2 linked regions of the Homo sapiens genome follow. The protein of the gene in region 1 interacts with the protein of each later gene in a biochemical or structural test. Each region holds a gene or a part of one and is shown in the gene's direction. Other genes may lie near its edges.

What was found.
Region 2: the proteins of ARPP19 (region 1) and SNCA form a complex in vitro, tested with the Homo sapiens proteins (one study listed by BioGRID).

What each region holds. Positions count from the first base shown.
Region 1 is NC_000015.10:52,558,947-52,562,775, reverse strand, and holds part of ARPP19 (cAMP-regulated phosphoprotein 19), read left to right. Parts: intron 1-3,829. UniProt on the Homo sapiens protein: Protein phosphatase inhibitor that specifically inhibits protein phosphatase 2A (PP2A) during mitosis. Inhibition of PP2A is enhanced when ARPP19 is phosphorylated.
Region 2 is NC_000004.12:89,830,333-89,834,161, reverse strand, and holds part of SNCA (alpha-synuclein), read left to right. Parts: intron 1-3,829. UniProt on the Homo sapiens protein: Neuronal protein that plays several roles in synaptic activity such as regulation of synaptic vesicle trafficking and subsequent neurotransmitter release.

The sequences.
Region 1 (3,829 bases):
TGGGCTCCTTTCTTTGTCTAACTTCTTAAATTGGATGCATCGCTCATTGAGATTTAGCTTTCTTCTCTGATATAAGCCCTTGAGAGATACTTGCTATACCTGACAAGTTTTGGTATGTGTAGGGTTTTGTTTGTTTGTTTTTAAAGAAACAGGGTCTCACTCTGTCTCCCAGGGTAGGCTTAAGTGACCCTCCCACCTCAGCCTCCCAAGCAGCCAGGACTATAGGCATATAAGCATCTACCACGACACCTATCTAATTTTTAAATTTTTTTTGTAAAGGCCAAGGTCTTACTGTGTTGCCCGGGTAGGTCTAGAACTCCTATTTTTTTTAAATACTCGTGCTTTCTTTTTTAACCAGGAATTATTTAGAAGTATGTTTTTAATTTCTAAATATTAGAGATTTATAATTTTTTTGTTGTTACTGACTTTAATGAATTGCAGTCATAGATGGTGGTCTGGAAGAAAATAGTTAAGATTTGCTTTATGGCCTAGTATTAGTCAGTTTTTCCATTTGTGCTGTGGAAGACTATGCATTCCCTAATTGTTAGATGTAAAATTAAAATCAAGTATCTTAACTACTTTATCTTTTATAGCTATCAATAATTGAGGAAGCTGTGTTGAATTCCATAGTAGTGGACTTGTCAGTTGCTCCCTATAGTTCTGTCAGTTTTTGCTTTGTATATTTTCATGCCATTTTATTAGTGGCACAGTGGCTCACGCCTGCAGTCCCAGCACTTTGGGAGGCCAAGGCAGGAGGATTGCTTGAGGCCAGGAGTTCTAGACCAGCCTGGGCAACATAGGAAGACCATGTATCTTAATAAAAAAAAAAAAAAAAAAAAAAGTAGGTGCACTGCACTAGCTCTGTTTTGGTAAGGATTTTTTGCCTGGTATGTTACCACCACCACCCACCCTCAGTCTTTTTACTTTCAACCTATGTCCTTGTTTTTAGATTTTTTTAAATGTGTACTCCACAAGTGGCTAGGTTTTTTTTTTTTCCTTAATCCAGCCACTGGATTTAAATGGACAGTCTGTTGCTTCAGTATGGTTATTGTGGTTATTAACATATTGGGATTTGTTTCTCCTTATGTTTGGTTTCTTTTTGGTATTTAAAATTTTTTTTATTTTTCTTCCTTTCTTGCTCTCCCCAACACTCCTTTTTATTTCTGCTATTTAATTGGTTCCCCTTGAAATTTTTCATGCATTCTTAACTAAACAAGATGTAAAAATTAAGATTATAAACCCTTTTCTAAATTATACAGGACCATAGAACACTTAAACTAAAAATATGGTACTGTTATAGTATTCTTTTCTTTTTTAACTCCACATGATAAAGATATTAAAATTACAATATTGACTTGTTATCAGTATATGTGTATGTATATACCAATTTTCTTTGTTTAGTAATAGTCATTCCTGTCCTTTATCCCTTACATCCTAACCTATTTAACCCAAAGCTTGATTAGTTTATGATTTAATCTTTCTGTGATTCTTTTTGGAAAAAATAAACAAATAAATAACTATTGGCTTATCTCCCCTTTGTTTTCATTCTAGCTTAAGTAAATGTTTAGGAATTCCCTTGAGGTCCAGAAACGTGGAGTCACATCAAATTGTGTTCTATTTTGCATTTTTGAACATGACTGTGGATAAATCGCTTATTTTACCTGCTTTTATCAGTGTCCTGTTGGGAGACAGGAGCAGAAACCACTTTGCATGTTTTTAAAAAGGAAGGAATATGATTTTTAGGGAATAAGGTTACAAATTATTAGAAGGAATAGAGGAACAAAAGGGAGGAAGATGGTGTTTCCAGAGGTAAGGATTACAGAAAGCCTTTGACCCTGCAAGGATGAGTACTGTTCAGAGTCCACCATCGTCTGCCTCCCTTGTCGTGTAGCTGCTACTAGAGCCCCTGTTTATCTGCCATATGTCCCTCTGTAGGAGCTCACAGGGGCGACTGCTGTCTGCTGTTGGTGGTGGCATCACCAGGAGCAGAATGGATTCTTTCTCTCATGCCTTTTAATCTGGCATAGATGCCGTTGACAGAACCTAATAAGAACTCAGTAACTGTCAGAATATTAATGCATGTCCAAGCACTTGAACTAACTTATCATTAAGGTCCTAGAACTGCCTAGCTCTGTAGAATGTTTCTGTAGGATTCATGAAAACTTTTGTGGAAGTCTTAATGGTGTTTACCACATTTAAAAATCTAGATTAGGTCATCTTTTCCCCCCTGTTAAATCCAACTGAAATTCTGAATCCAGTTAGGAAGTTGCAGCTAGCAGGGGCTTTCAGTTGTGCTATGTATTTGGCAAGAAAGTTCAAGAATCGGCTTGTTTTTTTCTAAGACATGTTATAAATTCATTCTAAATATAAATGACATTTGCAGCTCATAGATGCTGTTTTACCCAAACATTTTTTAATTTAATTAAGCATGCTTAATATGATATATCAATGTATTCCTTATTAAGAAAACAAGGGAATGCGGCTGGGCCCAGTGGCTCATGCCTGTGATCCAGCACTTTGGGAGGCCGAGGCGGGCAGATGACCTGGGGTCAGGAGTTCGAGACCAGCCTGGCCAACATGGCAAAAAAAAAAGAAAAAGAAAATAAGGGAATGCCCGGATTGTGTACAAGGTATTTTCCTTTATATATCAAATGGAGGAAACCTGCAGAAACACTGGAAACCAGAGTAAGTTGCTACCTACATACAATTTTCCTTTAAAAATTTTTAAGGAATTCGGGGAACTATTAGACTTGGAGAACTATTTCAAATCAAAGGAAGAAGTGGAGAGCTCTCACTTCCTAGGCTCAAGAAAGCTGAATTTTTATTGGAAATGTAGGACTCCAGTAACACCCTTAATTTGAAGGTGCAGGGACTAAAGGGTGACAATTAGCTTGGGATCCTTTTCAGCCAAAATTATTTGAAGCCAGCTGTGCAGGGAAACCCAAGAGTAGGCCTCTCCTCCCACATCCACTTCTAAACTGCAGCACTGAGAACACCCTTGGGCTGCAGTAGATATCTGCAGTGAGGGCTGAGCCACATCGAAGCTGTGCAGTGACTCAGCCCGCCTTCCTACATTAAACTTGGTAATCTTACATTTATGTTTATTTCTCTGGCTTTGGTGATGAATATGGTATAGTCATATCTTACATGGGGTTAGGTTCTAATGTTAGTAAGGGAAAAAAATCACATATAGCTAAAATCACCCTTGACAAAATTCTAGAGAAGGCATAATCATATTGGAGACTGCCCCATCAATTCTCAGTAGAGCAGGTAGTCACTTTTATGTCCAGCGTTTGAACAGATGGCTAGATGGCTAGGGTGATTCTTAAGTTGAGTGCTAGCTAAGGTAATAGGCTTGTATTGTACGGGCTGAGATTTTAAACACTGCAATGATAAACAGCATGTTGATGTACTTATGCTCTGCAAGATACCCAACGAGAGACTAACGTGGGAATGGCAGGTTTGCATCACATACCTCACACTTACCTCTCTGGAGCATACCCTTCTTGAATGGAATGACTGGTAGACTCACCACTATTTAAATTCTCTATTTCTGGCTAAGTGCACATAATTGAATGTCGTGCATGTCAAGTGAGTGAATGACGTGGCCACTGTAAAGAGATAACATAAATGGATGAATCTGCAACATAAAAAGAGGCTCCACAGAAAACAGTATTTGACAGAAGCAGCTTTTTTCTCAAAATTCTCCGAGACTGAAAATGAGAAGATCTAACAACAAATGAAGAAGCAGTTCAGGATGAAATACTGATAATATATAAAGTGAATGAAGCTGATTATAAAACATGTATGAGAGCTGGATGTGGTGGTG
Region 2 (3,829 bases), on another chromosome or scaffold:
GAGTTAATTTTAAATATTTTATGAAGTGTGAATTATACCTTTTTAGATGGAATTTGGAATACTGAATCAGTGACATGCAGTTTATCAATATCTTTCCGTTTGTCCTCAGATTTCCAAGTTCTGCAAGCACAAGTTTCTTTGACTTAGTTACCTTTTAACTGTTCATTGAAATCATTTTCAATGTCTCTCATGGCATTTAACACATAGCACATTCTATAAATTTTTTATTGGTTACATTCTGAGTTCTAATTGAGAGTTGAACTTACACACAGAATTTAAGATAAAAAATGACCATGTGAAGACACAATAGTATAGTCCAGGGATTGGCAAAATTTTGGGTAAGGAATCAGATAGCACGTATTTTAAGCCATGAGATCTATGTCTTGGCCAGGTGCCGTGGCTCAGGTCTTTAATCCCAGCACTTTGAGAGCCCGAGGCTGGTGGATCACTTGAGCCCAGGGGTTTGAGACCAGCCTGGGCCACATGGTGAAACCCTGTGTCTACAAACAACGCAAAAATTAGCCGGGTATGGTAGCATGCATGTGTATTGCCAGCTACCCAGGAGGCTGAGGTAGGAGGATGGCTTGAGCCATACAGCTCACTGCAGAGGTTGCAGTGAGCTGAGATCGAGCCACTGCACTCCAGCCTGGGTGGCAGAGTGATACCCTGTCTAAAAAAAAGAAAAAAAAATCTATGTCTCAATTCTGCTGTTGAAGTGTGAAGGTAGTCATAAACAATAACTAGTGTGGCTGTGTCCCAATAAAACTTCATTTATCAAAACAGGTGGTGGGCTGGAATTGTCTTGTATGTTGTAGCTTGCTGACTACTGATAGAGTGGAAAGAACATGCACTAATCACACAAACCAAAGTTTTAGTTGAGACTACATCACTTATCACCTTTAGGGTCTTGGGGAAGCGTACTTAACATCTCTGAGCATCACTTCCCTGATTAGTAAAAAATATGATTTAGAAAACTGCAACTACCTTGCAGTTTTTGTGGGAATGTCATAATAAGACAGGACATATGAATAATTGAGCACACTTTTATATATAGGAACCATGGTTATTATTATCAAATAAACTCTCCAACGGAATAATTACTTTGCCAACACGTTTTCCATTTATTCTTTTATCCTTCATTACATAACTAGTTTGAAAGATTGGAGGCGACCAAAGACCATTTTATAATTTCACTTATGGCTGAAGATGTTTGGTAGAAGCCTCATAAGAAAAGTAATCTCATTCCTTTATAAGAATATACTTTTAACAACTACTTTTTAACTCATTGAAGAACTACCTTAATGATCAGTGTTATTTTTATGGGTTTTGTTCCCTCCATTTTTGTTATCTGCGTACACCAATTTTCAATCAACATACTTCAATTTAATAGACAAAAATTTCTTCAAATGACTCAGAAATTAATTAGATCTAAATCCAAAAGCAGAAAGATTTAATTATCTTTATATAATGCTCAGTAATATAAATGCAATAAATACAAGAAAATGATGATCTTTGAGTGTCTTCCAATGCCACTCTGCTCAATAAGCAGCAGTGGCCATCAGTGAAATTGATAGCAAATTCTCAAGTCAAAATGTGCTTCACCTCACTAAGCTGACAAAGTCAACATAACATGCACAACAGGGATAACTGAGTTCTCAAAACTCTCAGGTATTACTTCTGACCTTCTTCTCCACTCTGTGCTCTTTTGAGGTTGGGAAGACAAGATAGGGTGTGTGTGGGACACCTCCGCTCAGGGAAGCCATCAGCTCTGGTGTCCCTACAGCATTTATACCTTGCTAGTCACATAACCACTTGGCACCTATTTTGTAGGTGTACGTTATCAATTACAGATTACTCATAAATTAAAGGCTAACCATCAATTACAGATTATTAGTAAATAATTATGACCTCAAAGAACAACTGATTGGTTTGATACATGGTAACCTTATGAGGACTCTCATTTATCTCGTTTTTTTAAGTTATATACCTATCTCTTTGGGGTTGCACTACAAAAATATAAAATATGTTGCATAAGATATTTATAAAAAATAATTAATTATAAGTTCTAATGGTGTGGTTTAGTGGCATTCTTTTTTTTTTCTTTTTTTCTGAGATAGGGTCTCAATCTGTCATTTCACTCCAGGCTGAAGTGCAGTGGTGTGATCTCGGCTCACTGCAACCTCCGCCTCCTGGGTTCAAGTTATTCTCCTGACTCAGCCTCCTGAGTAGCTGAAATTACAGGCATGCACCACCATGCCCGGCTAATTTTTGTATTTTTAGTAGAGATGGGGTTTCACCATGTTAGCCAGGATGGTCTCGAACTCCTGATCTCATCATCCCCGACCTCGGCCTCCCAAAATGCTGGGATTACAGGCGTGAGCCATTGCACCCGGCCTAGTGGCATTCTTTTTTAAAAATAAATTTAATTGTGTATATTTAGGGTATGCAACATGATGCTATCAGATACATTAGACACTAAAAAATTACTATATTGAAGCAAATTAATATATTCATAATCTCTCATAGTTACCTTTTTTGTTGTTTTTGTGGCAAGGGCAGCTAAAATCCACTTATTTATCATGAATCTCAAATATAGTACAATTTTATCACCTACAGTCCTCATACATTAGATCTGTACACTTTTTCATCTTACACATCTGCTACTTGCTTGGATCCTATGGCCTATATGTCCCTATTTTCTACCTACTTTTCCACCCCTATTAACCCTGTTTTTTACGTAGTCTCTGTATATTTGAATTTTGTTTCAAGCTTCCACATATATGTGAGATAATGTAATATTTTTCTTTCTGTGTTTGGCTTATTTCACTTAGCATAATTTTGTCTGGGTTCATCCATGTTGTAAATGGTAGGATCTTGTTTTTTTAGGGCTGACTGATATTCCATTGTATCTATGTACCACAATCTTTTTATCTACCTATCTATCAGTAGACACTTTAGTTGTGGCTATTATGTTTTTCTTTTTTTCTTTTTTGGAGACAGGGTCTTGCTGTCACCCAGGCTGCAATGGAGTGGTGTTATCATAGCTCACTGTAACCTCAAACTTCTGGGCTCAAGAGATCCTCCTGCCTTGGCCTCCCAAGTAGCTGAGACTACAGGCATACATTACCATGCCTGGCTAATTTTTAATATTTTTTGTAGATATAGCATCTCACTCTGTTGCCCAGACTGGTCTCAAACTCCTAATTCAAATTTAGAATAGAGTATGACAATTCTGTAAAATATAAAAAACATGTCCACTCCGTATAGGAAGTTATACAATGAGAAGAAGACAAACACTATTTACATTACTCTTGATAAGTTTTTTACAAAGAAATAAAACACTTTAATTTCTAATGTTTTAAATTCTGGTTTGCTAAATAAATAAATATTAGTTTTAGTGTTTTTAAAATTCCTTATATAGTTATAAGTGATCTTCCTGCCTCAGCCTCCCAAAGCACTGGGATTCCAAGCAAGAGCCACTGTGTTGGGGCCCTTGGAAACAGATATGCTGAAATCTTTTCTTGTGGATCTACACCCAGAAGAGGGATTGCTGGGTCATATGCTACTCTATTTTTAATTTTTCTTTTATTTTTAGTGAATATGTAATAATTGTATATAATTGTGGGATCCAGAATTATATTTCCATACATGTATACAATGTGTGATAATCAAATTAGGGTAATTAACATATCCATTACCTGAAACATTTATCATTCCTTTGTGGTGGGAACAGTAAAAATTAAAAATTCTCTCTTCTAGATTTTTGAACATATGCAATAAACTATTGTTAAGTATATCACCCTACAGTACTACAGAATGCTAGAACTCA